7 separate regions of the Homo sapiens genome follow, and regions 2, 3, 4, 5, 6 and 7 are each reported to be linked to region 1. Evidence: microRNA targets listed by miRTarBase, many of them from high-throughput screens and not tested one by one. Region 1 holds a microRNA gene; each other region holds the end of a gene's coding sequence.
Evidence for each region. Region 1 holds the annotated microRNA hsa-miR-1827 (UGAGGCAGUAGAUUGAAU, at 1,605-1,622, shown strand). A microRNA usually pairs through its seed, bases 2 to 8, with sites in the 3' UTR of a target mRNA and lowers its output. Matches are read on the target gene's strand: a 7mer-m8 pairs with bases 2 to 8, a 7mer-A1 pairs with bases 2 to 7 and ends in A, and an 8mer does both.

Region 2: the mRNA of ZNF583 is a reported target of hsa-miR-1827. Seed matches in the 3' UTR shown: 8mer at 2,189-2,196.
Region 3: miRTarBase lists PELP1 as a target of hsa-miR-1827. Seed matches in the 3' UTR shown: 7mer-m8 at 3,254-3,260 and 8mer at 3,228-3,235.
Region 4: the mRNA of PLLP is a reported target of hsa-miR-1827. The part of its 3' UTR that is shown has no 7-base or 8-base seed match.
Region 5: the mRNA of PGAP4 is a reported target of hsa-miR-1827. Seed matches in the 3' UTR shown: 8mer at 972-979.
Region 6: miRTarBase lists ZNF431 as a target of hsa-miR-1827. Seed matches in the 3' UTR shown: 8mer at 1,955-1,962.
Region 7: the mRNA of FDXACB1 is a reported target of hsa-miR-1827. Seed matches in the 3' UTR shown: 8mer at 3,481-3,488.

Annotation. Positions count from the first base shown.
Region 1 is chr12:100,188,328-100,192,939 of GRCh38, forward strand. It overlaps MIR1827 (microRNA 1827), which reads left to right and starts at 1,557; the gene lies at 1,557-1,622.
Region 2 is chr19:56,423,132-56,427,743 of GRCh38, forward strand. It overlaps ZNF583 (zinc finger protein 583), which reads left to right. Exons shown (of 5, transcript NM_152478.3): 5 at 1-4,233. The coding sequence ends at 1,237. Among named protein-coding and RNA genes, the nearest start is that of ZNF583, 21 kb to the left of the region's middle.
Region 3 is chr17:4,667,394-4,672,005 of GRCh38, forward strand. PELP1 (proline, glutamate and leucine rich protein 1) reads right to left here. Exons shown (of 17, transcript NM_014389.3): 16 at 4,298-4,612; 17 at 2,381-4,138. The coding sequence ends at 4,046. Among named protein-coding and RNA genes, the nearest start is that of ALOX15, 28 kb to the left of the region's middle. RefSeq lists an enhancer at 2,634-2,803.
Region 4 is chr16:57,253,563-57,258,174 of GRCh38, reverse strand. PLLP (plasmolipin) reads left to right here. Exons shown (of 4, transcript NM_015993.3): 4 at 1,146-2,078. The coding sequence ends at 1,262. ARL2BP (ARF like GTPase 2 binding protein) reads right to left here. Exons shown (of 6, transcript NM_012106.4): 6 at 4,540-4,612. Among named protein-coding and RNA genes, the nearest start is that of ARL2BP, 11 kb to the right of the region's middle.
Region 5 is chr9:101,472,012-101,476,623 of GRCh38, reverse strand. It overlaps PGAP4 (post-GPI attachment to proteins GalNAc transferase 4), which reads left to right. Exons shown (of 2, transcript NM_032342.3): 2 at 1-3,454. The coding sequence ends at 743. The region is part of intron 1 of TMEM246-AS1 (TMEM246 antisense RNA 1); the gene reads right to left. Among named protein-coding and RNA genes, the nearest start is that of TMEM246-AS1, 5.9 kb to the right of the region's middle.
Region 6 is chr19:21,182,921-21,187,532 of GRCh38, reverse strand. It overlaps ZNF431 (zinc finger protein 431), which reads right to left. Exons shown (of 5, transcript NM_133473.4): 5 at 1-4,612. The coding sequence ends at 3,499. Among named protein-coding and RNA genes, the nearest start is that of ZNF431, 43 kb to the right of the region's middle.
Region 7 is chr11:111,871,175-111,875,319 of GRCh38, forward strand. It overlaps FDXACB1 (ferredoxin-fold anticodon binding domain containing 1), which reads right to left. Exons shown (of 5, transcript NM_138378.3): 5 at 2,882-4,145. The coding sequence ends at 3,748. ALG9 (ALG9 alpha-1,2-mannosyltransferase) reads right to left here and starts at 407. Exons shown (of 15, transcript NM_024740.2): 1 at 178-407. The coding sequence starts at 308. RefSeq lists a silencer at 43-352.

The DNA.
Region 1 (4,612 bases):
GACTCACAGGCCTTGCCTGCCTGTCTTCCTGAGAACCCTTCAAACTGCTGAAGGCAGGGAGGGACAGCCTCTTACCCAAGGGAACAACCTCAGCCCCATCCCACAGTGAGGGGGAGAGGAAAATGCAGCAGGGAGGGAGGGAGCACCAGCTGCACAGCCAGGCAGTCCTGCAGAATGGGCTTCTCTAAACTTGAGTGGTGACCCACTGTGGGCCAGGATATCAAATTAAGAAGATAAGAAGTCAATTTTGAGGGGACAAGCATTTTTTTTAGTATTAAAAGAGAAAATAGTACTTAGCTTTACTATATGTAGCAGTGACATTTTTCTTTCAGTTTTATGTACATACTGACAGTATACATTTACATACAAAGGTGTATTATCTGCTGTCGGTTCCCAGTCAAAAAAGTGAACAACACTGTGTCCGAAGGTAACATCCTTCCCAGTGTCCAGAATTGGTTCCTTCTGGTGGGTTCTTAGTCTCGCCAACTTCAAGAATGAAGCTGCAGACCTTTGCGGTGAGTGTTGCAGCTCTTAAAGGTGGCACGGACCCAAAGAGTGAGCAGCAGTAAGATTTATGATGAAGAGCGAAAGAACAAAGGTTCCACAGCATGGAAGGGGACCCGAGCAGGTTGCCGCTGCTGGGTGGGGTGGCCAGCTTTTATTCCCTCATTTGTCCCTGCCCACATCCTGCTCATTGGTCCATTTTACAGAGCGCTGATTGGTCCATTTTACAGAGTGCTGATTGATCCATTTTACAGAGTACTGATTGGTGTGTTTACAATCCTTTAGCTGGACACAGAGCACTGATTGGTGCGTTTTTACAGAGTGCTGATTGGTGCATTTACAATCCTTTAGCTAGACACAGCGCTGACTGGTGTGTTTACAATCCTCTAGCTAGACAGAAAAGTTCTCCAAGTCCCCACTCGACCCAGGAAGTCCAGCTGGCTTCACCTCCCACCAGGAGGCCAAACAAAAAGGACAGTGCTGAGAGGAACCATCGTCCTGCTAGGGAAGGGAGTGTGGCACAAAGGCAGGTGGGTGTGGGCAGACCCCCCCTGCCACGGGTGTGCAGGGCAGAGGATGATGAGCCCCAAGCAGCAGGAGCAGGAGCAGTAGAGCAACTCTGCCCCTGAAAGGGTCTGGAGCCTTCCCTCATCACTCTTCCTCAAGTCGATGCTGGACACCCACTATGTACCAGGCCGTGTGAGGCACTGGGGTAAACCAGAGACAAGACAGACAGGGTCCCTGCCCCATGGAGCTCCCAGCCTTGCAAGGGAGCTAGACCACAGATGAGTACACAAAGAAATACAGTAACTACAGGCAGTGGTAAGGGCTGTGAAGGAGAAGCACGGCAGTGAGGAATGGGAGGAACAGGGAAGGCTTCTCTGAAGAACGAACAGAAGTAACCAGAGAAGAGACAGCCCGCCCTGCAAAGGGACAGCCTGAGGCAGGGCCTGTCGGGAAGACAATACATCTGAAGAACTGCAAGAAGTCAAGTGGGCCTGCAACAGAGGAAATGACAGGAGTCAGACCCCATGGGACCCTGAAGGCCATGTTCAGCAGCACAGCCTTCAGCCTAAAGCAATGAGAAGCCTCTGAAAGGCTGAGGCAGTAGATTGAATTGATTCAGGTCCCTTAGAATTGGGTCCCTGCAACAGGTGGACCCAGGACCGGCAGAGAATGCAGATAGGCGCCCCTCCTCAGCCCCCAACTCTAAATATAACAGAAGACATGGCTCAGTTGCTCCCTTGGTGGCCCTGGACAAGACAGGCTGAAGTTCTCTGAGCCTCCGCTTCCCATGCTGAGTCATGGTGAAAGGTCTCTGAGTCTACAGGCCAAAGCCACTGCTCCTCTCATGACTGCAGTGATTTCCATGGACAGTGTTATGCAACGGCGGCCCTTCTGATACGTGGGGCCCTGGGAGCGTGTGAACTGATCGAGACCAAGAGGACTGATGGGACACAACTGCTAAGCACAACCTCATGCTCCTGGGAGCTATCAAAGAAGACCAGGCACCAATGCAGCAACACACACACACAGCCCAGCCAACTTCCCGCAACTGCTGAAACTCCACGGGCCCAAAAGCAAGTCGCCTTCCTTCCTGCTTCCTTCTCTAGAAGGTCTGGCTTTAAAAATGTCACTGTGAGGCAGCAGCATGGTGACTACATGCCTTGTCTTTCTTGGCAGACAGAGCCATGCCTTCCAACGAGGAAAATTACAAATACCACGTTATGGCTCCTGGACAGGAACAACTTCTCCCAATTCACCAAACATCTGTGTGCCTGCTTTGAGCTGGTTTGCGCCCTCTGCTGCAAACAGGGGCTGAAGAGACGAGTCACTGTCACGACTTTAGAGTCCTAGACACTAAAACCATAATAGATTCTTGGGAACCCCCGCCGTGCTCACAGATAACTCTTTCTACCAGGCCTGAGTGGGTCAAGAATGAAGCAAAAACTAAGAGTCAGAGCAGGGCCAACTGCAGGGCCCGCAGAAGACCTGTGGGAGGGAGGCCTGGAAGGAAGAGCACACCTTCCCGGCCAGCTCAGCCCTCACAACTGCCCTTGAGAAAGGCACCCTGTCCACTCCACCCAAGGGAGTGGAGACACACTTCACCTACTGGCTCAAAAGAGTCAGAGGGGCAACAGTGGCAGCAATGCCAGCAGGCCTGGGGTGTGTAGCCACCATTTACAGAGCACTTACAATCAGTCAGGCAGTGTGCTAGGCATTTCTTATTTGTAACCTTAACAACACTCTCACTGATCCAGAGAGGGAGAGGTTTACACACACACACACACACACACACACACACACACACACACACACTCCAAGAGGATATGAGGGCTTAAAGCTTGGGTTAGGCAATAAGCATCTGGCATCCTCTAAGCATGAAAGGCACAGTAGTGAACTATACTGACAAAATCTCCTCCTAGGAGGTGATGCTCTAGTAGGACACAACAGCAGATGCTCAAAGACTAGATCAGGGAGCAAAACCATCCTGAATCTCTAGCCGACTGAGGGCCCCCTGTGCTGGCTGGTGAGCTACTGCCTACTGGACAATCATGAAAGCCACAGTCTCCCTAGGGATCCTCTCAGCTCCTTGCCCCTCAGATGGTCTCACACAACCGAGTGCTCAGGATGTTTACTGAACTGAGCACTTTAGGCAGAGTATTTCACAGAACACTAGTTAGAAGCCACTAATTAGTCACGACTACCTAGTTTACCATTTCCACAATACATTCATTCTGTGAAAGTAAACGAAACCCAGCTGAGGGCTAGCCTGATACGATATAGGTAAACACCCAATCAAATATCATTAAGACCCCACTACATAAATACCAGAACTGAAAATTGCTAATGAAAATGCCCTTCCCTCTCCCAGTCTGAGATACAATGGCAGGGTCCTTTTCTTTCTTTAGAGGAAGGGGTTGTTACTGTCTATATTTTGTTCTGACTGGAGGTGGGAAGTCTGCACCCCAGTGCCTCAAAGGTAAAAGCGTCTGACCAAGGACACCTGTCTACCCTCATCAGATGCCTCAGTGAGGTGGGAGCTGGTACACCTCCACCCCGAATGCATCTGACCCCTCCTTTCATTTCTCAAGAAATTGTTATCTCCATGGTGGAAGGAAACTGGCAATGTGCATACAAGCAAAGCAAGTGCAGCAGGAGAGAAGTCAATGCTAAGGGCCATTAGGAATCCTTCAGGAAAGGAAGTCCACCGGGGTGGGGCTGGCCCCAGCCACACATACCTGCCAAAGTGAGCTTCATCCATCACAGCACCCCCAACTCAGAAACAATTAAGAAGCAACTGCTCCAAATAGGTTCAGCTTTGCATTTATCTACTTTTAAATGTTTGCCAGTACATAACATATAAATACTTCAACCCTTCATACACAAACAAGATAATCCTCCAACCTAGTTAAATAAAAATACTAGGCATGACTAAACCATCATCAGTGCCACGGTCTGAATGTCTGTGTCCCCACAAAATTCCTATGTTGAGACCTAGTCCCCAAGATAATAGTAGTAAGAGTGAAGCCTTGTGGGAAGTGATTAAGTCATGAGGGCAGACCCCTCTGGAATGAGATCAGGGTCCTTATAGAAGAGGCCAGAGTGGTAAAAGGGATTTCAGGAGAAAAATACACTTAGCTAGGTAGCTAGATACATACATACATATATATGTATACATACATGGATATATACACACATATATATGTATACATAGATGGAGGCCCCAGAGGGAACTTGTCTGTCCCTTCTGCTGTGAGAACACCGCTACAAGGCATCATCTCTAAAACAGAGAGTGAGCCCCCACCAGACACCAAATCTGCTGCTGTCTTCATCTTGGACTTCCCAGCCTCCAGAACTATGAGAAATAAATTTCTGTTGTTCATAAGCTACCTTGTCTATGGTATTTTATCACAGCAGCCCAAATAAACAAAGGCAATCAATTTGGGAGAAGAAGAAGAAAGAAAAGAAACGATTTGTCAAACTCTGCTTAAAACTCTTCACTGACTCCATAGCTCTTAGGACAAAGACCAAAATCCTGCCCTGACCCAAGCCCTGCCTCTTCCAAAGGCTATGTCCCCTTCACCCCTAGCTGCCACCAGGCACT
Region 2 (4,612 bases), not on the chromosome of region 1:
TAACAAATCTTGGCAAACATTCCACCAGGATACAATCTTTGATATACAACAGAGTTTTCCCACCAAAGAAAAAGCACATAAGCATGAACCACAAAAGAAAAGTTACCGAAAAAAATCTGTTGAAATGAAACATAGGAAAGTCTATGTAGAAAAGAAACTTTTGAAATGTAATGATTGTGAGAAAGTCTTCAACCAGAGCTCATCCCTTACTCTTCATCAGAGAATTCATACTGGAGAGAAACCCTATGCATGTGTTGAATGTGGGAAAACGTTCAGCCAGAGTGCAAACTTGGCGCAACATAAGAGAATACATACTGGAGAGAAACCCTATGAATGTAAAGAATGTAGGAAAGCCTTCAGCCAGAATGCACACCTGGCCCAACATCAGAGAGTTCATACTGGAGAGAAACCTTATCAGTGTAAAGAATGTAAAAAAGCCTTCAGCCAGATTGCACACCTGACTCAGCATCAGAGAGTTCATACTGGAGAGAGACCTTTCGAATGTATTGAATGTGGAAAGGCCTTTAGTAATGGTTCATTTCTTGCTCAGCATCAGAGAATTCATACAGGAGAGAAACCTTATGTGTGTAATGTGTGTGGGAAAGCCTTTAGCCATCGTGGATACCTAATTGTACATCAGAGAATTCATACTGGAGAGAGACCCTACGAATGTAAGGAATGTAGGAAAGCCTTCAGCCAGTATGCACACCTTGCTCAACATCAGAGAGTTCATACTGGAGAAAAACCTTATGAATGTAAAGTATGTAGGAAAGCCTTCAGCCAAATTGCATACCTTGATCAACATCAGAGGGTTCATACTGGAGAGAAACCCTATGAATGTATTGAATGTGGGAAGGCCTTTAGCAATAGTTCATCACTTGCACAACATCAGAGAAGTCATACTGGAGAAAAACCCTATATGTGTAAGGAATGTAGGAAAACATTTAGCCAGAATGCAGGCCTTGCTCAACATCAGAGAATTCATACTGGAGAGAAACCTTATGAATGTAATGTTTGTGGGAAAGCATTTAGCTATAGTGGATCTCTTACTCTACATCAGAGAATTCATACTGGAGAAAGACCCTATGAATGTAAAGATTGCAGGAAATCTTTCAGGCAGCGTGCACATCTTGCTCATCATGAGAGAATTCATACTATGGAGTCATTCTTGACTCTTTCCTCTCCCTCACCCTCCACATCAAATCAGTTGCCAAGACCTGTAGGTTTCATCTCCTGAATATTTCTGGAATCCACCTCTTGAATCCATTTCCATCCCATCATCCTTGTCCAATGCACATTAATATATTTGACATGGGATACTCGAGTAGCTTTCTAATTGGTCTCCTTGTACTCACCATTGTCTCTGTCAGATGTCCACATTGCAACCAAATTTGTATTTTTAAAAATATGTTTAATCTCATTTCTCCCTCATTAAAATCCCTCAGTGGCATCCCATGGTTTTTAAGTTAAAGCACACATTCTTCAAAATAGCCTAAAAACCTAGCCTCTAACACCTTGTTCCAGGTTACCTTCCAAAGTTTCTATCTTGTGTCACTATCCATCTCATTCTCTGAATACTTATCCAGGATTAAGATACATATTCCAGGATCAAAAAGACCTGGGTTCCAATCTTTGCACTTCCATTTCCTGCCCTCTAATTTGGGGGCAGCAGTTTGTGCTTTGTAAGCTTCAGTCTTATTTATAGTGTGGGAATAATAATGGTTCTACCTCAGAAGTTAATAGAAGAATGAAATAATGCATGTAAATTGCTCAGCAGCGTGCCTAGCATAAAGTAATTACTCAAACCATAATGTAAAGTAAAAAGATAACCATACTATACATAGAAAGCCAATCATCTCAGCCATGATTATCTCAGAAATAAAAAGAGATGCAGCAGCTCAGGACTGAGAGATTGTGAAGTTTTTTTTTTTTTAGGAATGGTAGGCATTTTTCTAAAAGTAGGTGAGGAGGGTATCTAACAGTAGGATTTACATTAGAGTCCATGATATAGGGTAAGATGGTGGCTTGTATCAGCATTCACTGGATATTTAACAGTTCTAAGATGCTAATGTCTTATTTTAAAAGTCTTTTTTTTTGAGATGGAGTCTTGCTCTGTTGCTCAGGCTTGAGTGCAGTAGTGCAATCTTGGCTCACTGCAACCTCCGCCTCCTGTGTTCAAGTGATTCTCCTGCCTCAGCCTCCTGAGTAGCTGGGATTACAGGCCTGCACCACCACGCCCAGCTAATTTTTGTATTTTTAGTAGAGAGAGGGTTTTGACATGTCGGCCAGGCTTTTCTCTAACTCCTGACGTCCGGTGATCCGCCTGCCTTGGCCTCCCAAAGTGCTGGGATTACATGCGTGAGCTACCGTGCCTGGCCTAAAAAGTCATTTTTAATAAGACAGTTTACTGAGATGTATTCATCATTTACATGTAAACAAAGGCAAAATCGAAATTAAAAAGAAATCTTGAAACAAGTCAGTAACCAATGATGAGTAGAAAATAAAGTATAAGTTTGAACCCCTGTTCTAAATCTGGGTGAATGAATTATATCAAATCTATGTCATTTAAAATAATAAAGGTTGTTAAATTACTAAAATTTCAAAACTAGTGAAGAAAAGAAACCAAAACTGTAGGTCAGTTCTCATAAACTGGCCCACAAACATGTTTGATTCTGTATGCATTAAGTTTAAAATACATATGAATACCTTCAGCAGACCATGTGTTTTCCCTTTCTCCAACATTCAAACCACTCCCTGATTCTTTACATCTGACCTCTTTTAATATTACTTCCTGACCCCAGAATTCTTTTGGCATATAATCAATGCAGTGATCAATTCACATGTGACTATAGATACAAACAGAATGACGAAAGTTTAATGGAGGATGAAAAAGAAGACAAATAAATATTTTATCCTTTATATGGTAAGACAGATTCACTATCATACTGATGTCAGTAGCCCATGAATTAATTTACAGATTCTACCTAACAAAATTCTAATAAATTTTGTAAGGTTTTAACATGTATGTGTGAACATACATATTCATGCTGTTACACATATAAAGAAAATTATAACAAAAGTGACCTATACCATCAGTGGTTTAACAGTTTTGGAAAAATTTATCGTGCTCTATACAACAATTCATTCCATATGTGAAAGTTACTTTCAAGTGCTTTATCTAAATGTGGAACAAACAGTGATTAGAGGAGTCTGTGACACACTCTAATCATGGAATGAGACTGGCCTTCCTAAACATGAGATTCAGAAGCCTCCCCACCTCCTGTCAACAAGTCATAGATTTGACTGTATAAGAACTTTATAAAGCTTTTATATGATCAAAGATAGTAAAAGATACAATATTTTTTAAACCTAAGAATGGGAGAAAATTATTGCAGCACATATAAACTATGGAATTCATATCCTTAACATAAAATTGCTCATAAAAATCCCTTAGGAAATGACGCTTTTCTCCAGCTCATAGTCAAAGGATATGAAGAGGCAACAGGTGACCAATAAATATGTGGTAAGTACTAAATCTCCCTAGGATCAGAAGAAATACAGTTTAGGCCAATGAAATACTATTTTTTTCAATATCAGATTAATAAAACTGCATTGAAAGCATACAAAAAGAGATACTATGCACTAATTTAAAAGAGCATGAGTTTGTACAAACTCTGGTAGGCAATTTGTCAACTTCAGAATTTTAATTGGGAAAAGTAGAATTTTATTTTGAAGTTCAAAAACTCGGCACACAATGTCTTTCCCTCCAGATTCTATTATACACATAGAACAATGTAAATGATTCTTAAAAAAAAAAAAAAGGTGAGGCTTTTGAGTGGATGAAATAATTTTGTAAAAGGCAAAACAGGGAAGAGTGTTCATGAATTGTAGCAGAAGATGCTGCATGTTATATGCGAATGACCGAAGGGTTTTAAAAATGGAATCTAGTCTGCCCAAAGGATCCCTAGAGAAGTTCAGGCTTGGAGTTGGCTTATGTACAGGCTGTGGCTTCTAAGAAGACATGATGAAAAGCCTCTTGAAGCCTTTGTATGTGAAAGTTATGTCAGTAGCCCTTGCCAAAAGCCTCCTCACTCTCCCCTCTCTTGTATAAGTAAATTGAATGGGATCCTTATTTCACACCATTAACAAGTATAAGTTCTAACTGAATAAAAATCTAAATGTAAATTACTAAAGCAAAAGTATTAGAAAAAATATAGTGGGATATGTTAACGACTTTGGTGTCAGACACGTGTTTCTAAAATATTCAAATACCATAAAGGAAAAGATTGATAAAATTGACTGTGTCAAAAAATAGTGTGCTTTGGCTGGGTGCGGTGGTTCACACCTGTAATCCCAGCACTTCGGGAGACTGAGGCAGGTGGATCATGAGGTCATGAGTTCAAAACCAGCCTGGCCAAGATGGTGAAACCCCATCTCTACTAAAAATACAAAAAATTAGCTGGGTGTGGTGGCAGGCATCTGTGATCCCAGCTACTTGAGAGGCTGAGGCAGGAGAATCACTTGAACCATGTGGCAGAGGTTGCAGTGAGCCAAGATCATGCCACTGCACTCCAGCCTGGGCGATAGAGTGAGACTCTGTCTCAAAAAAAAA
Region 3 (4,612 bases), not on the chromosome of region 1:
GGGACTAGTTTAAAACATTATGATACAATGAGATTCTAGGCAGCTGTCAAAAGAGAATGAGGAAGCTCTGTATGAACAGAAATGGAATGATCTTCAAATTCTGCCAACTCCACCTTCAAAAATTATCTAGAATCCAACCACTTCTCCAACACCTTAGTGGAAGGTATCATCTCTTCTAGCTGAATCTGCTTCCTAGCTGGTGTCTCTACTACCCTTTCTTTTGTCTGTTCCCCAGGAGCAGTCACACGGGTTCCATTACAACATAAATTATGTGACATCAATTATCGGCTTAAACCCCTCCAGTGGCTTCCCACCTCACCAAGTAGAAACCATAGGCCCTGCCTCACTGCCCCCCCATCCCCCAGCCATCCTCTTTCACCCTATTATTACTCTGACCTCATTCCCTTTTCCAACCTCACTGGCCTCCTTGCTTTCCTTGAACACACCAAGAATGCTCCTGCTTCAGGATCCTTGTACTTGCTGTGCCTGGGCCCCAGAACTCCACACAGCTCTCTCTCAACTCTTTAGGGTCTTTAGAGTCTTTATTCAACATCACCTTCTCAGCAAGAGCTTCCTCGACCATTGTAATTAAAATTGCACACACACACACACACACACACACACACACATGTAGTAACATGGTAGACATGGGTGTTCTGGGTGTAATTCTTTCAACTTCTCCGAATGTTCAAAAATTTTCATTATAAAATATTGAAAACAGGCTGGGCGCGGTGGCTCACACCTATAATCCCAGCACTTTGGGAGGCTGAGGCAGGCGGATCACGAGGTCAGGAGTTCAAGACCAGCCTGGCCAACATGATGAAACCTCATTTCTACTAAAAATACAAAAAGTAGCCGGGCGTGGTGGTGCATGCCCGGCTACTCAGCTACTCAGGAGGCTGAGGCAGGAGAAGTGCTTGAACCCAGGAGGCAGAGGTGCAGTGAGCCGAGATTATAACGCTGCACTCCAGCCTGGGGCAAGACTCCATCTTGAAAACTAAATAAGTTAAAATTTAAAAATTCAAAATACTGAAAACAATACACCCACACGAATCTATCCCTTTCCTTGCTTTATTTTCCCACTGTGCTCACCATCAAATATACATCTTACTTATTTGTCTACCCCCCACCCCCAAAATATCTAGAATATAGATCCCACAAGGGCAGGGCAGAGATTTCTGCATTTTGTTCACTGCTGTATCTCCAGCTTTGTAAAACAGTGCCTATCAATGACTACCAACATCAAATTTATGGTTTTACTGTAATAATGTAAGATGTAACCACTGGAGGAAACTGGCTGAAGGACAGCTTGTCATCCCTACCCTCTCATTAGCATCTCTGCAACCTCCTGTGGACCTATAGTTACATACATTATATATATACACATACATACATATATATACACACATACATATAGATACATACATGCATATACACACATACATATATATACACACACACATATATACACACATATATATATACACATATATATACACACATATATATATACACACACATATATATATACACACACACACATATATATATATATCACACATATATATATATATATATATATATATATATATATTTTTTTTTTTTAGACGAAATCTCACTCTGTTGCCCAGGCTGGAGTGCAGTGGCGCGATCTCGGCTCACTGCAATTTCCGCCTCCTGGGTTCAAGCAATTCTCCTGTCTCAGCCTCCCGAGTAGCTGAGATTACAGGTGCACTCCACCACATCCAGCTAATTTTTTTTTTGAGATGGAGTCTCACTGTCGCCCAGGCTGGAGTGCAGTGGCGCGATGGCTCACTGCAAGCTCCGCCTCCCGGGTTCACGCCATTCTCTCACCTCAGCCTCCTGAGCAGCTGGGACTACAGGTGCCTGCCACCACACCCAGCTAATTTTTTGCATTTTTTAGTAGAGACAGCCTCTGATTTATGTTACGTGATAATATACTACCATTTGCATTTAAAATTATATATATATTTGTATGTGCATACAATATCTCCAGATGAATATGCAAAAACTGATCATACTGGCTGCTCTGGCAGAAAATCTCATGGCTAAAGAGGACTTTTCAACAAACCTTTTGTACCTCTTGAGTTTTGAACCATGTGGATGTTTTCCCGATCCAGAACACCATTCAAATGAGAAAAAATTCTGTTCTAGCCTCTTCCCCAAAATCAATGTCAACTTCACCTATCTAGTTTCCAGAAATCAGGTTCTTTCCCTTTCTGAAAAACCACTATTGCACTTTTCACACTACACCCTTGTCCTTGCAGTGATCCTTAAACCTTCCAGGGCCTTCTCCACCTAGAAGAAATTCCTCTTGAACTCAGAGGAGGAAAAAAAAAAAAAAAAGCTATTAAGACAGTTTAGGAATTAATAGGAAAATTTTAATATCACAATTATCACTGGATTACTGTTATTTTTCTTAGGTTTGATAATGGTATCAGGATTGTGCAGAAAAACATTCTTATCTTAGAAGATAATTCATGTTAAAGAATCTGGGATGGGAAGGGCCACGGTGTCTACAGCTTACTTTCACGTGGTCCCATGAAAAAAGAAATGTGTATAACTACAGATGTATAGATTAGACAGATATATGGGTGTAATATAGATACATGTCTACATGTAGATACGCAGTTTATAGGGATAAGAGTTAACATGACTAAATGTTAATTGGCAAATCTAGGCAAAGGTTATCTATTATACTGTTCTCACTTTTCTGTTTATTTCGAAAACAAGTTGAGGGGTAACTTTTTAAAATCCTACTGAAGTTTCCAAAAATTAGCTCAAATGCCACCTCCTCAAAGGGCTCTTCAGGATACATGTTGGGAGAAATGACTCCCTCTTCTGCATTGCGAAGGCACTTTACTTACGTTCATGATTCAACTGACTGAGCAAAAAAAACCACGGGGCCCCTAGTTCAAGCCCACCAATCTTGGTACCCTCTCACAGACACATCTCTCGGTTCATCCTCACACGTCCATCCCAGCAAGGCCTAGAATAGGATTAGTGCTTAAAGAAAAGACACTGGGACAGTCAGGTGCGGTGTCTCATGCTTGTGATCCCAGCACTTTGGGAGTCCAAGGCAGGTGGACCATGAGCTCAGGAGTTCAAGACCAGCCTGGCCAACATGGTGAAACCCCACCTCTACTAAAAATACAAAAATTAGCCAGGCAGTGGCAGGCGCCTGTAATCCCAGCTACTCAGGAGGCTGAGGCAGAGAATTGCTTGAACCTGGGAGGCAGAGGTTGCAGTGAGCTGAGACCATGCCACTGCACTCCAGCCTGGGCGACAGAGCAGGAGTCCATCTCAAAAAAAAAAAGAAAAGAAAAGACACTGGGTGGGAAATATCCACACCTCAAGAGTGAGCAGGAAGGCCTGGGGTGAGCTTATCAAACTCCTGCCAGGGAGCTGTGAGGGGAACTGTCATTAGGAGGACTAGCCCCAAAACAGAGGTCATTCCCAACGTACCCACTACGGACACCCTTTCATCTTGGGGTAAGGTCCAAATTTCCCAGAATTCAATGACTAAACTGCTCCACACCTTTTCCTAATTTCCTAAACTTCCATAGACTGAGCAATCACTCAGCCTGCCCTTTCAGACCAAGGGGCTGAGCACGCATGCGTGTGGGCATGTGGGTGTTGACACAGGTCCACTCACTAGGATGCATTCTCCACACATTTCCCACCCCGAATACAAACACGAAAGCAGGGCTGTGTCTCTATAACTCCTCATTCTTAACCCTACACACAATTCTGCACGTTTAGCATCCAGCCAGAATCCTACAATTCTGACACCATCGTGCTGAGTGATGGGACAGTCCATTACACCAATGTCAGTTGTTCCTCTCTGGATCGTCAAAAAGAGGACAGCTATGGAGACATCTGGGGAATACTATGGACACCCTGAAAAGCCCAGCAGACACTTGAGCTTCTGGCTGGGGACCCAGGTGTGGCAAAAGGCAGAAGCAGCAGTCGCTATCTAAGGACATAACTTTATTGGAAACAAAGAGTGGGGTGCAGAAGATGGCTAGGAGTCAGGCTCTGTGGGAGGTGGTGGCTTCTCATCATCAGGGGGACAATCGATGAAGTCGGCCAGCATGGCAGCTGTGTCATCCTGCTCCTTTTAGGCACAAAGATACAAGATTCAGAATAGTCACACACACATACACAGAAGAATGGTTCAGGCTGGGCAAACCTCTCCTAAGAGAAGCAGCTGCCACCCCTTCTCCCGCCAGCCCCACCTTCTCGCCCAAGGAACCTTCCCTGCCTGGCCTCTCACCTTTTCCTGGAGAGCTTCGGCCTCTGTCTCTGTCTCCATCTCTTCTTCTGCAGGTGTCTCTGGTGGGGGCTGCACCTTGTCACTCCCATCCTCAGTCTCCTCTTCCAACAGGGTTGGGGGAGCAGAGGGCTCTTCTTCAACAAGCTCCTGGGGAGGGGGCCCTGCCGCAGGGCTTTCCCCTTCCCTCTCCACCTCTCCCTGGGAGGGGAGCGCTTCAGGGGCCAGGGTGGGAGCTGTGTCAGCCCCACGCTCCTCCTCCGTCCCTGGCTCCTCCACTTCCAAAAGCAGCCCGGGTTCAGGTTCGGGTTCTGGCTG
Region 4 (4,612 bases), not on the chromosome of region 1:
ACTGCAACCTCTGCCTCTTGGGTTTAAGTGATTCTCCTGACTCAGCCTCCCAAGTAGCTGGGACTAGAGGTGTGTGCTGCCACACCCGCTAATTTTTTTGTATTTTGTATTTTTTTTGGAGATGGAGTCTCACGCCTGGCTAATTTTTGTATTTTTAGTAGAGACGGAGTTTCACCATGTTGGCCAGGCTGGTCTTTTGAACTCCTGACCTCAGGTGATCCACTCGCCTTGGCCTGTTAAAGTGCTGAGATTACAGGTGTGAGCTGCCACACGCGGCCTGGGCTGACTATTGAACCTTGTTGTAAATCAGCTGTGCCACACTGCCTTAGGGTCACGTGCCCCCTTGGAGAATGTGAAAAACATGCTCTCCCACTGACAAGTGCACGTGCAAAAACCTTTTGGTTTAAACCATTCTGGGAGATTCATAGGCTCTCCCATGAAACCCAAACTCTGGGCCCACGTCAGGTGGCCAGTGAAGTGGCAGTAGTCCCCTCCACGCCTGTCACCCTTCACACCACCAGGCCCTGCACACCATCTCCTCCCAGGATCCTGCGACACCCACAGTGAGGGAGAGGAAGGGACTACCAGTTCCTTTTGACAGACAGGAGGCTCCTGCTCAGAGAAGTTGGACGCCAGGCCTGGAGCCACGGCCAAGCCCAGGGGAGGGCAGGGCCTCAATGGGCACGCATTTGGTTCCTTACTCTTCCTGATGAGGGCAGTTTTGAAATCAGCAAATTCAGTGATGGGGACAGAGACGGGGAGCTTCTGAATGTGGCTGCAGGTGTTAGTATAGAGGCTTGAACTGGTTCTAGGAGATTCCTAGGGTGTCCTTTGAATGTTGTCTTTTTAGAACTAAATCCTTGCTAGGTGTCCCCTCTGTCACTCTTATCTTCTCCTTCATTGCCCTTATCACAATCTGACAGGCCCTGCCTGTGGTTCTTAGCTGTTTCCCATGGTTAGAAGGTAATGTTGGTATCCCAGGACCCTGGTGCTCATCAGCCCCATGATAAACAGCTGTGAAATGCATCTGGCTAAGTGTGAGATGGTGCGGCTGCCACAACCCCTCCTGCCTGGCCTGAGATCTGGTTGGAGCTTGTGTCACTGTCACCCTCTCGGTCCTTAAGCCCTTCTCACCTCTCTTTCAGTTCTTTGCGTGTTTGGTGATGATCGCCTATGGAGTGAGTGCCTTCTTCAGCTACCAGGCCTGGCGAGGAGTAGGCAGCAATGCGGCCACCAGTCAGATGGCTGGCGGCTATGCCTAAACCACCTGTGCCACGGCCCCCTCTGGGGCTGAAGCCGCCGCTGGGTCACAGAGCAGGGTCACCCTGCAAGCCTGAAGCTGGGGAGCCCTGCGTGGAGTCAGCCCAACAGGGACTGCATTTGCTCCTCTCTGCCCGTCAGACATAAGCTCTCACAGCGCTAAGGAAGCAGGCCCAGGCTGGCAGGCATCTCGGCTTGCAGGAGGCCAACTGCTGAGACCTCTTCTCCATCCCCCTTATTCAGTGGAAGATGACGGGGGATCTGAGGCTGTGTCTCTGCCTTGTCTTTAGAGGACTTCAGCGTCCAAGACTGGGGCCCACCCTTCTCACCAGCACTAAATGCACTAACAAGGACTCCAGACCTGCAGCCCCAGACCCGCCGTAGTATAAGCCTAACAAGCAACACGTAGCACCTTAGTCTTTGTTCCAGGAGAGCTGAGCAAGCTGGTGAAACCACTCTCCTTCCTTTAAACACCGTTTCAACCAACCTCTCCCTGGAGCCAACCTGTAAAAAGTGGGTTGATTGCTGACAGCATGGTCTTCCCTCCCTGCATTTCAGACATACCAGTTACTGAAAGCAAATCAGTTTTAAGTGATTTCTCAGTGCTGAAAAGCCTGTCCAGGTTTCCTTCCCTTTCCCAAGCCTCTCTCTGTAATACTCCCTTTGGGCGAAGCTAACATCGGTGCCTCCCCGACCTTGCTGACTAGGCACATGGGACGCAAAGGAGGGAGGGAAGCAAGGCCTTGCCTGGCGAGTTGTCATGTGGTTGGTGGTGACTGTTTTATTTTTTTTAATAAAAATAAAGATGAGAGAAATTATTTGGACAAGATGTTGGCAAATCACTTTTACAGGTGCTTGTAACCTCCAGGAGACCTCAGCTTGACTGTAGAAGATGCCTGCTGTAGGGCAGTTCACGTTCTGGAGTCGTTCAGCACCACCTGCGAACTCTTTGACCGGAGGAAGGCTGCCTATACTTCCTGCTTGCTGGGTCTGGAACAGTCCTGGTTTATGCTGTTTGTGCTGGCATAAATAGAATAGCACGGCCTTTTATTCTCACAAGTGACTCAGTTTGACAATAACTTAGTCACCCTTGCTTTGGGCAGGTTAGGTGAGCTTACTGAATCAAAGATTTCAACAATATCATCTACCTTGAAAGTCTGTGAAGCTTGGAGGTCATATAATCAAGGTGGCTGGCCATGCTGCCTGCTCAGAGCTGGTAGAGACAGCAGAGGAAAGCAGCTGAGTACTCCTGAGCTTATTTTTCCAACACCACAGAACAACGTTCTCTGAACAATAAGGTAAAAGCATTTCTAGGTACCCTCTGTACCCTTTTGTTATTTTTTATTTTTATTTTTTGGAGACCGAGTCTTGCTCTAGTGCCCAGGCTGGAGTGCAATGGCGCAATCTTGGCTCACTGCAATCTCCGCCTTCTGGGTTCAAGCAATTCTCCTGCCTCAGCCTCCTGAGTAGCTGAGACTACAGGTGAGCGCCACCACGCCCAGCTGATTTTTTGTATTTTTAGTAGAGATGGGGTTTCACCATGTTAGCCAGGATGGTCTTGATCTCCTGACTTCATGATCCGCCTGCCTTAGCCTCCCAAAGTGCTGGGATTACAGGTGTGAGCCACCACACCTGGCCGATTTTTTTTTTTTTTAAGAGACAGGGTCTTGCTCTCTTGCCCAGGTTGGAGTACAGTGCCACAACTACAGCTCACTGCAGCCTTGACTGCCCAGGCTCAAGCAATCCTCCCACCTCAGCTTCCTCAGTAGCTTGGACTACAAGTGCAGGCCACCATGCCCAGCTAATTTTTGTTTTTTTTTTTTTTTGAGATGGAGTCTCACTTTGTCACCCAGGCTGGACTGCAGTGGCGTGATCTCGGCTCACTGCAACCTCTGCCTCCCAGATTCAAGCGATTCTCCTGCCTCAGCCTCCCGAGTAACGGACTACAGGTGCGTGCCACCATGCCTGGCTAATGTTTTGTATTTTTAGTAGAGACGGGGTTTCACCGTGTTAGCCAGGATGGTCTCGATCTCCTGACCTCGTGATCCGCCCGTCTCGGCCTCCCAAAGTGCTGGGATTACCAGCGTGAGCCACTGTGCCCGGCTGATTTTTAAATTTTTTGTAGACATTGGGTCTCGCTATATTGCTTAGGCTGGTCTTAAACTCCCAGCTTCAAGTGATCCTCCCATCTCAGCCTCCCAAAGCGCTGAGATTATCGGCATGAACCACCACACTTGGCCCTGGTATAAATATTAATAGCATCACTTTTTACTCTAAAGTCTCGGAGTTTGAATAATAAATTAGTCCTTCCAGGAGTAAGTTATAAGAGTTTGGTTTTAAGGAAGGGCAATACACTTAAATGTAAAACAAAATCCCAGGCAAGTTAGAGAGCTCACCCCTCTTATGTTTCCAACATGAATCAAAAGCCTGTTTCAGGGGGGACATTAAAGGCATTCAGTCAATGCTAAGGCTCAGCAGTTTGTGTGACTACTGCTTCCCACTGGGGAGGAGTCCTAAGCAAGAGGACTGGGGCTTCCTCACCCCAGGGCAGGTGGGAGCCCCATCAAAGGTGGCACCTGACATCACAGTCTAAGTGTCTGAGGATGGAGAGACAGGCTGCTAGTTTATTTTAAAAGAAATCAGAATGTCTACTTATAATATTAAGTGACAACAGACTTGCCTCCTTTTTGCTGAGCAGAAAGGGTGAAAAAACCAGCCAGGCATGGTGGCTCACACCTGTGATCCCAGCACTTTGGGAGGTGGGTGATCACCTGAAGTCAGGAGTTCAAGACCAGCCTGACCAACATGGTGAAACCCTGTCTCTACTAAAAATACAAAAATTAGCTGGGCGTGTTTGTGGACACCTATAATCCCGGCTGCTTGGGAGGCTGAGGCAGCAGAATCACTGGAACTCGGGAGGTGGAGGTTGCAGTGTGCCGAGATCGTGCCATTGCACTCCAGCCTGGGCAACAAAAGCAAAACTCCATTCCCAAAAAAAAAAGAAAAAAAAAAGGGTGAAAAACCAATTTGCCTTTATCATCGTTTTTTCATCATTTAATCTCTGGACTTGTCCACTGGCCTTTTCTCAAGTAGGCAGGCTGGTCCACAGGTCTTAGCAAGTGCTCCCAGCATGCCTGGGCTGTGGTGGACCTCCCATTTATAGACAAAGCAAGGGAAAGCAAGCCCAGGAGAGGTGGCATTTAAAAAAAAAAAAAAAAGACCAAAGCAATAATTAATAACCTTATGGCAGTGGCTACATTAAAGAAAGAATACAACTCATTGAGAATGGTGGTTCTTGCGAAACACCTGAAGTTTTACTCATGGTACAAAAGTATTTAATAAGTGACACATC
Region 5 (4,612 bases), not on the chromosome of region 1:
TGCTCTCCAAGTATGTCCCTGTGGCCAATCGCTATGAGGGCACTGAGGATGATTATGGTGATGACCCTTCGACCAACTCGTTTGAGAAAGAGAAGCAGGACTATGTCTATTGCCTGGAGTCATCCCTGCAGACCTACAACCCAGACTACGTCCTGATGGTAGAAGACGATGCTGTACCAGAAGAGCAGATCTTCCCAGTCTTGGAGCACCTTCTGCGGGCTCGCTTCTCTGAGCCACATCTCAGAGATGCCCTTTATCTCAAGCTGTATCACCCCGAGAGGCTCCAGCACTACATCAATCCAGAGCCCATGCGGATCCTGGAATGGGTTGGTGTAGGCATGTTGCTGGGGCCCTTACTAACCTGGATATACATGAGGTTTGCCAGCCGCCCAGGGTTTAGCTGGCCTGTAATGCTCTTCTTCTCCCTGTATAGCATGGGTCTGGTGGAGCTGGTGGGTCGGCACTATTTCCTGGAACTGCGGCGGCTGAGTCCTTCCCTGTACAGTGTGGTTCCTGCCTCTCAGTGTTGCACCCCAGCCATGCTCTTCCCGGCACCTGCGGCCCGCCGGACCCTCACCTACCTGTCCCAAGTGTACTGCCACAAGGGCTTTGGCAAGGACATGGCACTGTACTCGCTGTTGAGGGCCAAGGGAGAGAGGGCCTATGTAGTGGAGCCGAACCTCGTGAAACACATCGGGCTCTTCTCCAGTCTCCGGTACAACTTTCATCCCAGTCTCCTCTAGGGTGCCAAGAGATGCCTTTCTGAAGTTGGCCACTTCTTGAAGATTCAAATATTTATCTCTTTATTTAGACATGGTTGCCTGCAGGTATTTCACTGTTTACTGTTGTTAGAGATATAGGCACTGGGGCAGCTGAGGAACCTCAATATGTTAAGAGCCTTGGCTTTGGTAGCCTCCTGGCAGGAGCAGCAGTTTGCCACAGGTCCGGACCTCTCCCTCCACACAGCCACACTGCCTCATGCAGTCTGACCCACCCAGTGAGGGTGCATTTGAACACTGATTATATTCTCCATTTGTTTTTAAGCTCTGCTTTGTGTTAGAGCTTGTGACTGCCAAAAATTTTGTGCACAGTGATATGACTGTTTTAGGATCTTAAGGGTAGAATTTTGTGAAAGGTGAGATCCTTTGGAATTGAGTTCTTTCTCATTGGGTATGAAAATGGATGTATGTTTAGAATATATGCCCAACGAGGCAGGACCATGTGGATAGATTCCATTTGTTTCCTTGACCTGATGTAATAAAAACTGATAAAAGCCGTGCAGTGCCCGGCATCTTGGAGGCAGGTGATCTGGCTTTTCTGTTACCTGGGATTTTCTTTTCCTATATATCTGTAGTGCACTGATAATTGATATTGTTAGTGAGAACTTTAAGGCACGACAAGATCTGGAAGAGCTTGTGAACCATCAAAGTCAGATTGCTTATGTTGAGTAGTGATTTAACATTGAACATTTCTGTACTACTCTGACTCTTTGAAAATTGGACATTTCAGAATGATACAATATAGGGGAGCTCTTTACAAGTAGCATATCATTTTTCCTGACTTTCCTGGCTGACTGCTTACCTTCATTTCTTTTTCTTCTAGGTAGCATGATGTTATAGAAAAAAAAAAAAAAAAATCATGGACTGAAGTCAGAAGACCTGACCTTTTATTTCAGATCTCTGCCATGGCCTAACGACGTGACCACCTTGGGCAGGTCATATAATCACTCTGGGTCTCAATTTCTTCACCTGTAAAATGAGGACAGTAATACTTACATGTTAAAGTTGCCTTGAGGATTAAATGGCAGAATATATGTAAAACACCTAGCAAGTGCTTAGTCCATAGAAGACGCTTGGCAAACTTTTCTCTCCTATAATAAACATATACAACTCAAGCTTATTTCGGAAAAAGATATTGGTGATGTTGTTTAAAGTATGAGATAGGGCATGGAGCTGCCACCTATGTACCAGCTATTCCAGATGACCAAGCCCTGCTAGAATAAAGACTGACTTTTCATTGTGACCTCTGAAGGATGTGCAGCTCAGCTTTCACCTATCCCCACGTTCACCCAAGCCAAAAAGAAGAATTGTTCATTCAAACTGGAAATGATCTCCAGCTTGGAAATGAGACTCCTCATGAGCTTATTCTAAGATCAGAGTCTGAAAATTATTTTCTCAAAAGTTACAAATAAATGTCTTTTAACAGTACTGTCAGACTAGTGACCAACAAGTTACTTTATGAGGATGGATGATGATATTAGAGTTCAAGCAATTGTCCAGTTTGTTTCGATGCCACAGTTTGCTTTTAAATTCCCATAGTGAGCTTCCATCTTGAGACCCACTCAACACAGAAGGATTACATAAAGGTTGATCACCCACGCTCTACAGATGAACAAATTGAGACCCAGAGATGCTAAACTGCTCTGCAGGTCACAAACCTGAACAGCAGCATAGCCAAAATGGGAACGGAGCTCTTCTGACTTCAAGCCCCTGCACTTTTTTCTTAACCACATTAATTTTATGAATATCTATGTGGTCAAAGTCTCTTTTGTAAAATCTGAGTATAAGCTGAACTAGATCATGTCTCTGTAAGCTAAGATGGCAGAAACACATTGTCATGTTAGTTTGGAGGAGCAAACAGATATAAGTATGTGTTGTAATGTTATAGTGAGCTGTTATGTATCCCCCAGCAATGTCCAAAGTGATCAGAGCTACTAGATGACTTATTACAATGTTCAGATCCCACTCCTTCATTCCTCCTCTCTCAGTGACCTGTCTACCCCCAAGCTTTAGAACTGAGCTCTCTCCAACTTAGAACTCATTAGAGTTTGTTGCATTAGTGATTGGATCTCCTCATGAAAGTTTTTTGACCAATGACAGTAGAGCCCCTTTAAGCTAGCCAGGCCCAAGATAGGGAAGCACTGCTGGTTTACATTTCTGCTCTTTCTAATTCAGTTGTCTATTGCATGCAGACATCCCCTGCCCGACTTCTCCATTATGGAAGGCTAAGGCCATCCTTCCTTGTCCAGTTTCTCTACCTACACACTAACATGCCTTTTCCCCATGGAGTGAACTCTGCCAGTTGTCTTTGGACATTTTCTGCAGATGCAGGCTCAGTTCTGCTCTTTTGTTCCCACCCACTTCTAGATCTTCCTCCATTTAATCCCTTATTCTTATAAGGAGTCTAATTTTTGTGTATTGTCCTTGATTAGGGCAGCTGACAGCTTTACACCAAAGCTGAAGTCTCTCACTTAATCCTAAGCAAGGGGCTAGGGAGAACTAAGATATCCTTCCCATATCAAGGGATATAGGTTACTAGAAGGGTGGAGGTCTCTTAACAGGCTCACTCACCTTTCAGAGTTTAAATTATGGTCAGGCTTAAGAAGCTCTCTCTTGTGACTGAGTGTATTGCATAGACATGTCTGTGAAAATAAAAGCACCCATTTTGCTAAGGCTTTCTGAGAAGACTTTTATCATTCTCTGTCTTTCCTTTTCATGAATGGATTTTTCTGATGTGGCAAATAGTATGGGCTCCCTGCGCCCACACACAGTTTTGTAGTCCCAAGGGAGCCATTCAGAAGTATTGGCTGCTGCCTGCACAAGCAACCATGGCCACAGATCCCTGGGTCACAGCAATGTCAGAGCATTTATCCATCTTTTTCTGGGTAAAAAAAGTGGGGGTCACTGCTACCACCCAGATCATCTTACCTCTCACTGGTATACCCCTGGTACAATGTGGTGATCATTCCTTCACTCTTTCCTGCCTCTTGCCCTAAAAGTCTTAGAATAAGTTGCAGAGCTGCCATGGGTGGTATTCCTGTCTAGTGCTCCATTGGCCACCCCAAGAACATGCAGCAACACCTGTAGGCTGAAAGAGAAAACCCAGCCTTCCCCTGAGAGAAACACGCAGAGATCCCTCACACCCATCCTCCCCCCACTCCCAACACACACACTGAAAACAAAACCACTAACAACAACAAAGTAAAAAACAGCTGTGTGTAGTGATGGAAAGACTTCCTCTTAGCACTTGCCATTCCCTCTGCTTGGAATGCATGTAAAAAACTTTTTTATAGGGGCTAAAATTGTACACTATAACCAATTCTCAGTCCCTAGACCCCATTCTTTGTTCCTCTTCTTCCTGATTTTCTTCCCTAGTCCATTTCTTTTTGTCCAGTATTCCTTTTGTTCATAGGCAGTTCCACTGTGAGTCCTGTACTCTTTCTCATTCATTCATGGCTCACTGTGTGTCATGTTCTATTCTAGGTGTTGGGGATATAGCAGTGAACGAAACAGAAGACCCCTGACACTGAGGAGCTCATGTTCTATGGGGAAGGTGAAGTGGAAAAAAACTCAAAAGAATAAATAAGGGAATTTCAAGAGGTTTGAAGGAAATCTAACTAGGTAATGTGATTGCGGGACCTAGGGATAGGGAAGGGCATAGACTGCTTTAGATAGGATGGGAAATCTCTTAGGGGAGATTAAAATTGAACTAAGACCTGAATTACATGGAAAAATTTAGTCAAAGGAAAAGCATTCCAGAGAGAGAGCATGGCAGTGCAAAGCCTTGCAGAAAGAACCAGTGTAGAAAGTCCAAGGATGAAAGAAAGCCAGTG
Region 6 (4,612 bases), not on the chromosome of region 1:
TCCCGACCTCAAGTGATTCGCCCACCTTGGCCTCCCAAAGTGCTGGGATTACAGGCGTGAGCCACCACGCCCAGCTCTTTTTTTTTTTTTTTTTTTTTTATATGGAGTCTCGCTCTGTCGCCCAGGCTGTAGTGCAACGGCACAATCTTGGCTTACTCCAATCTTCACCTCCGGGTTCAAGCAATTCTCCTGACTCAGCCTCCCGAGTGGGATTACAGGCACCCACCACCATGCCTGGCTATTTTTGTAGTTTTAGTAGAGACTGGGTTTCACCATATTCATCAGGCTGGTCTCAAACTCCTGACCTCAGGTGATTCATCTGCCTCTGCCAGAATTTCTCTTTAAATTCAACAAGATTCAGTTTTACAGTCTGGAAAAAAAATGTCCTCTCTATATGAACAATCAATCTTCACCATTGATATTTTTCATCTTTGACTTGAAGTTACAAACTAACTTCAGCAGGAATATTTATGAATTATTATGGATAATCTATTACACAGTGAAAACTGTAATATATGTTTGCTACATTTATATATAAAAACATCCTCATGACTAATGAAGCCTCCCTAGTACTTAGCTGAACAAATTGACTCAATAAATATGCTTATGTCAATTATAAAAAGTGAAAGGAACAAATCACTAAAGAAAACCTATATATTGTTCTCCTCTTAAAAGAACAAAATGGAGTGCTCTAACTAAATAAAATGTAACTTAATACACTACTTTTGGAATTACATCTAAAGATTATTTTGTGTGCACTAAATTTCATAAAAATTCTTATAATCGCAGACCAGCTCACATAATGAATACTTCATAAAATATAAAACAAAAAAAATGTAAGAAACAAAAAAAGTATGGGTCTAGCATGAGTACCAGGCAAGTATATACAGAGAATTTGCTTGGGAAGATTCAGAACTCTAAGTCATAGACTGTACAGTAATAAATTCAATACAAACCAAAAAGTATACATTTGCTTTCAGCATTTTTTAGGTTTTTAGTTTTATAGTAGTCACCATATTAAAATGATTTTTGTTCCCGTATCATTCTTTCCTTCTGAAAATATGTACAAACTCATACTCACACACACATACTTAACTCCATAATTTTCTTACACCTAAGATTTGTCTTTAGACTAACATGTATTTAACTCTATATGAATCAAAACTAAAAGTCTGTATATGTTTGCAGGCAGACAGGCCACATGTTCAAAGAAAAATATATAGAAAATTTGAAAATATATTTTACTTTTTGAGATGGAGTCTCGCTCTGTTGCCCAGGCTGGAGTGCAGTGGGGTGATCTTGGCTCATTGCAACCTCCACCTCCCAGGTTCAAGCGATTCTCCTGCCTCAGCCTCCTGAGTAGCTGGGATTACAGGCACATGCCACCACGCCTGGCTAATTTTTGTATTTTTAGTAGAGACGGGATTTCTCCATATTGGCCATGCTGGTCTCGAACTGCTGACCTCAAGATCCACTCCCTCGCTCAGCCTGTCAAAGTGCTGGGATTACAGACGTGAGCCACCACACCTGGCATGAGAAAATATTTATTAAGAATTTAGAAATGAATTTCATTTATACTCGTATATAATTTTTATTATGACGATAAAAATAACACTGTGGTAAATAAAAATTTAATTGTACATTTAAAAATTTTTTTTTAAAGTGTAGAATTGGATTGTTTGTAAAACAAAGGAGAAATGCTACAGATGATGGATGCCTTACTTAACCCTGCTACTATTATATATTGTATTCTCCTATTAAAATATGCTACAGGCTGGGCGTGGTGGCTCAAGCCTGTAATCCCAGCACTTTGGGAGGCTGAGGCGGGCGGATCACATGAGGTCAGGAGTTCAAGACCAGCTTGGCCAATATGGTGAAACCCCATCTCTACTAGAAATACACAAATTAGCTGGGCATGGTGGCTGGCACCTGTTATCCCAGCTACTTGGGATGCTGAGGCAGAAGAGTTGCTTGAAACCAGAAGGCAGAGGTTGTAGTGAGCTGAGATCATGCCAATGCACTCCAGCCTGGGCGAAAGAGTGAAACTCAGTCTCAAAAAACAAACGAACAAACAAACAAAAGAATCTCTCTCTTTGATGTAGCAACAATTAACCCCATGCTTTCACATGTGAATCCAATAGGAATGAAGAAACAACAGGAAATAATTTCAGAGTTGAATGATGACATTATTCAATTTTCAAAAAATCTGTAATATTTTTCAAGAAATAAAGTATACTTTGAATGTAATTATAACTCTGCAAAAAACCTTCTGATCCTCTTAAAGTTCTATACAAATAACTTTTCTACCAACTTTAGTTTCAGATTTTCTATACTTAGCACTCTGATTTAGTATATCTGAAGTGTCAGTACCTTATATATTTCTACCATAAATTCTCTGATATTTGCATAGACTTAATTATGGATTAAATATTTTACTTTTACTGCATCTGGAAAAAATATATTCTAGTATAACTGTTGATTTCTAAGCTGTAGTTTTTGAAAAATTGTTTTTCCAAATTTATTATATTTGCACAATTTTTCAATATAAATTCCCTGATGTTGAACAAAGTTTGATCAACTGCTTCAGAGTTTTCCTCTAGAAGAAAATGTCTACAAAAAGATCTGTGATACAAGTAAAGGCACTACAACCCTTTTTATATTTGTGATGTTCAACTTCAAAATAAATACTCTTCACTAAAAAAGCTTATATTTTCTGAAAGATCTTTTGACAGTAATTGCACTTATAATGCTTTTATTAAGCAGGAACTCTCTGTGTTGAGTAAAATGTGAGCAGATAATGATGGCTTTTTCACAGTCTTTATATTTGTATAATTTATCTCAAGTATAAATGCTTTCCTAGCAATAAAGTGTGAGCATTAAGTTTTGCCATATTGTTCACACATGTAGGCGTTTTCTCCAGTATGAATTATCTTACCTACAATGAAGTGTGACAACCATTTAAAGGCTTTATCTCACTCTTCAGATTTCTAGGATTTCTCACCAGTATAATTACTTTTATGGTTAGAAAAGTTTGAGGCGTTGTCAAAAGTAGTCACATCTTTCTGATTTGTAGAGTTTCTCTCCAGTATAAATTATCTTATGTCTGTTAAGAATTGAGGGCTTCTTAAAGGCTTTGCCATGTTTTTCACACTTGTGGGGTTTTTGTACAGTATAAATTTTTTTTGAGACGGAGTCTCACTCTGTTGCCAAACTGGAGTGCAGTGGTACAATCTTGGCTCACTGCAACTTCCACCTCCCAGGTTCAAGTGATTATCCTGCCTAAGCCTCCCGAGTAGATGGGAATACAGGCACGTGCCACCACACCCAGATAATTTTTGTATTTTTAGTAGAGACAGGGTTTCACCATGTTGGCCAGGATGGTCTCGATCTCTTGACCTTGTGATCCACCCACCTCAGCCTCCCAAAATGCTGGGAGCCATTTTGCATAAGCCACCGCACCCGGCCAATATTTAATGCTTAGTAAGAGTTGAGGACTGCTTAAAGGCTTTCCCACATTCTTGACATTTGTAGAGTTTCTCTCCAGTATGAATTATTTTGTTTAATAAGGTTTGAGGACTGGTTAAATGTATTGTCACATTCTTCACAGTTGTAGGGTTTCTGTCTAGTATGAATTTTCCTATGTTTAGTAAGAGTTGAGGATTGGTTAAAGGCTTTACCACATTCTTCACATTTGTAAGATTTCTCTCCTGTATGAATTATCTTATGTTTAGTAAGATTTGAGGATCGGTTAAAAGCTTTGCCACATTCTTCACATTTGTAGGGTTTCTCTCCAGTGTGAATTCTCTTATGTGTAGTAAGGATTGATGACTGGCTAAAAGCTTTGCCACATTCTTCACATTTGTAAGGTTTCTCTCCAGTATGAATTATCTTATGTGCAGTAAGTTGTGGGGACCGGTTAAAAGCTTTGCCACATTCTTCACATTTGTAGGGTTTCTCTCCAGTATGAATCATCTTATGTGTAGTAAGGTTTGAGGACTCATTAAAGGCTTTGCCACACACTTCACATTTGTAGGGTTTCTCTCCAGTATGAATTCTTTTATGTTTAGTAAGGGTTGAGGACCAATTAAAGCCTTTGCCACATTCTTCACATTTGTAAGATTTTTCTCCAGTATGAATTATCTTATGTTTAGTAAGGTATGAGAATCGATTAAAAGCTTTGTCACATTCCTCACATTTGTAGGGTTTCTCTCCAGCATGAATGAACTTATGTGTACTAAGGGTTGAAGACTGGTTAAAAGCTTTGCCACATTCTTCACATTTGTAGGGCTTCTCTCCAGTATGAATTATCTTATGTGTAGTAAGGTGTGAGGACCGGTTGAAGGCTTTGCCACATTCTTCACATCTATATGGTTTCTCCCCAGTATGAATTATCTTATGTGTAGTAAGGGTTGAGGACTGCTTAAAAGCTTTGCCACATTCTTCACATTTGAAGGGTTTCTCTCCAGTATGAATTCTCTTGTGTCTAGTAAGGGTTGAGAACCATTTAAAAGCTTTGCCACATTCTTCACATTGGTAAGAATTCTCTCTAATATGAATTCTTTTATGTTGACTTAGGTGTAAAAGCATGCAAAATGATTTGCCACATTTTTTA
Region 7 (4,145 bases), not on the chromosome of region 1:
AGACTGAATGCTGACCCGCCCAGGAAGACCAATAGGACCTAGCTGAAGAGGGAGCTCGGGCCTCCCGCGGTGAGGCCAGGCCGGACTGAGCCCCGCGCGCCACAGCTAAGACCCTCCCGGGGGCAGCCCCGAACCGCCCCGCCGGCCGGCCACGCCCCTGCCGCGCCGCACACGTACTCGGTCCGGTGCTCCGCGCCGCCCGCCTCTCGGCTGCCCAGCAGCTCCCGCAGCTTGTCCGCAGCCGGGGCCGTATCCCCACTGCTGGCCCCGCTGCCCTTCAGGCGCTGCCGAGCCCCTCGACTAGCCATGGCAAGCCTGGGGAAAAAAGAATTCGGCACCCTATGAAGTCGGTGAGCGCGCAGACATAGCTTTGGCTGGCAAACGGTGTCCGCCGAGGGACAAAAGACCTTGACATGCGCAGAAAATACTAAATTATAGCGTTACTGGGCCAATTGGGGCAGATCCCCGAGTAGCGAAGAAATAGAACCTGAGGAGTTTCTTCATCAGGGCTGTCCCATCCACCTGCTTCTAACTCTAGCCATTCCTACCTCCCTCCAACCCTCTTTTCCGTCACTTTTCAGCATTCTCCATTCTCAAAAAAAAAAAAAACCACCTCTCAGCTCCCCTATTTAAATGAAAAAACAAATAGAAAGTGATTAAAGAAATCTACATAGTGAGATGTGAAGTATTCAGTTAAATATCACAGCACAGCTATCTACTAAAAGGTCCTTAAAATGTCATTTTTAACACCTTGCCTTCTCTGTATTTTGGTAAGAGTGACAGAGGCAGCCTGTAGCTAAAAACTGCTTCAGAGAGACAAACCGGTAATGGCAGAGTGTAGACTGATGAAATTCTGTGCGGCAAATTGAACCAGATGTCCATCACTGTCATCGCTACTACGGCATTGTGGTAGGCATTTTACATATTTTATCCTTTTTAAACTTAATACAACAACCTTGTTTTATTTACCAGGAAACTAAATAAACTTGGAGCTAGTAAATGGTGGAGCTATGTTCCAGCCCAGGACTATCTTACCGGAAAGCCCATGCTCTCTCTTCCCACCAGATCTGGTGAAAGGTCTTCATTTCCTACAATCATTTTTATACTGGCACATTGATGATATCATACCTGTGACCCCCATATCTTGGGGGTCATTCATCTAATCCTGACACTCTATCCACTCCTCTAATCACAGAGCTATATCCTACCCTGTCGAGCTCCATGCCAGTAACTGGGACAAGTTTATAGAGGGAATGCTAATCTCTTGACAAGGTCTCAGAAGGTTGTGATTTCCTACTAAAAATTCCCAAGTATTGAAAATGGAGATTGATCATATTGCTCAATTCTCACATGCAGTCATTAGTTACCAAGTTCAAATATCCAGCTTAACTCTTTTTTTCTTTTCTTTTTCTTCTTTTTTTTTTTTTTTTTTTGAGACAAGAGTCTTCCTTGCTCACCCAGGCTAGAGTGCAGTGGCACAATCTCAGCTTACTGCAACCTCTGCCCCCTAGGTTCAAGAGATTGTCTTGCCTCAGCCTCCCTAGTAGCAGGGACTATTGCCACCACACTGGCTAATTTTTGTATTTTTAGTAGAGATTAGGTTTCGTCATGTTGGCCAGGCTGGTCTGGAACTCCTGGCCTCAAGTGATCCACTTACCTCAGCCTCCCAGAATGCTGGGATTATAGGCGTGAGCCACTACACCCAGCCTAACTGTATCTCATATACCCATCTCCTCCTTTTCATTTAAGTCTAATGCAGGTCCCTCCCTGTCTACGTAGGACTAACACAATAGCATCTCCACAGGGATCACTCATCTCAAATTCATCCTGTGCAACATTAACCAGTTAATTTTCCAAAGCACTACTCTGGGGCACTTCCTTAATAAAAAACCACCGGATGTTTTCCTATTGCCTACCAAATAAAGTACAAACTCCTTATTCTAGCATTTGGTATTCATGAACTCCAGCCCCAACTTACCGTTCCAATCTTATCTCCCACTACTTTCCTATGCACACTTTACATCCCAGCTAACTAGCCTAGAAAGTGCCCCCAAATGCTCCCTTATCTATATCTCTGTTTATGGATGTCCTCTGCCCAAAATGCACACCCTACTTGCCTAACAATTCTCCCTTCACATTCCTGCCCTTGTTTTAAGATCCAGCTTTCAAACGCTACCTTATACATGTACCAAGCACTACTGAGGATAGAAGAAAGGGATAAATCACATTACCTGCCATCAGTTAGCAAAATAGTCAATGTGGAGAGCTCAGCAATAGATGTGTCTGTAAGAGATCCCTTGATTCTTTATCCCACTCCCCAAACTTACTCGTATGGCAGTGTTTCCATCCAAGTTAATGACACTTCCAATCTTCTAGGTATTCAGGTCAAAAACCTAGTAGTCTTGCTTAATTCCTTTATTTCTCTAACCCCACACCTCTCTCACCCACACACAAATGTTTAATTCATCAGCAAGTCCTTCCAAATATTATCCAACCCAACATTTTACCACCTTGGTCCAGGTCATTATCTCATTTGCATTACTGCAATAACCTCCTAATTTGTCTCTGTACTTCCATTCTTGCCTTCCCAAGTGCTTTTCTCTAAGAATAAATAAGACAGTCATGTCTCTCACAGAATATAATCCCAAATGTGGAGCCTAACTATTAACAGGAGCATACATTACTTCACATTAGAGTACCGCATTCTGCAGAATCCTAAGCTAATTTTCCAGTGTCCCTTAGAGATACTTACAACAGAAGGCCCCAAAATCCAGAGAGGCAAAGTTTAATCACAGTTGAACGATTACTGTTAAAGACTAGGGAAGAAGTAACAGAAAGTAGCAGAAAGAACATGGGCTTTAGAGTCAAACAGACCCAAATGTTAACCCTAAATCTGACACTTTATTCGTTCCATGACTTTCAACCACAGAATTAAAATGGTGATGATTATAATAATAATACCAAAATTAATGTGGAATATTTGCAATTTCCCAAGCTAATAAATGTTAGTCTGATGCCAAAAACTACTCTCATAAGGTGATTTAATGAAATGATACAACAAAGTTAAGGGAAGAGTAATTGACAGTGTGGAAAACATATTTATATTTGATGAGACACTTAAGTTCTACTGCCTGTTCAACAATAGAGCATCTAAAGTACAAGATGCTGTTTTGTTTATTGTTTTAGTCACTTCTCGGGACCAAAATATTACACAACTCCAAATGTCACCAATCACATTATAATCTATAAGTTTCAGTAATAGAGTCAAGGTATCTTTAAGATCAACTAACAGTAGGCCGGGCGCGGTGGCTCACATCTATAATCCCAGCACTTTGGGAGGCCGACGCAGGCAGATCACGAGGCCGGGAGATTGAGACCATCCTGGCTAACACGGTGAAACCTCGTCTCTACTAAAAATACAAAAAAAAAAATTAGCCAGGCGTGGTGGCAGGTGCCTGTAGTCCCAGCTACTCGGGAGGCTGAGGCAGGAGAATGGCATGAACCTGGGAGGTGGAGCTTATAGTGAGCTGATATCATGCCACTGCCACTGCACTCCCGCCTGGGCGGCAGAGCAAGACTCCGTCTCAAAAAAAAAAAAAAAAAAAGATCAACGAACAGTAGCTATGGTCACAAAGTAAAAGATTTTACAAAAACAAAAATCCAGAAAGGACTACTGGTTGCAAGTTGGTAATTTTCCTCCACATCCCCCGCAATGAAGGATCACACTGCAGAAAAGGATTTACCAAACTACCGAGGTATAACATATAGGTGTTGTTGAATCTCCTTCCTAAACTGGGACTGCATTGATGCTACTTGCTGCTGGGTGAGGGCCTTGTCACAGGTCTGGTAGGTCAATCTATAGCAGAGACTGACCTGTTGAGTCTTTGGATGCTGGAAACGGCTAAGAAACTGTATGGATATAATAGTGTCCTGAGACACTGCTCGGGCCACAGTGTGAAACTCTAGTTCATCAAATCCTTTCTTCTGATCTATCCAAAAACTAACATCATGCACATAACATGGAGGATACAGAGAATGACTTTTAAAGGGTTCTATTTTGCCAGGGACAAAATTTTTCAGGAAACGGTTATCAAACGTCCACAACATTCTCCAGTCAGAGATACACCAGACAAGCATGGCTAATA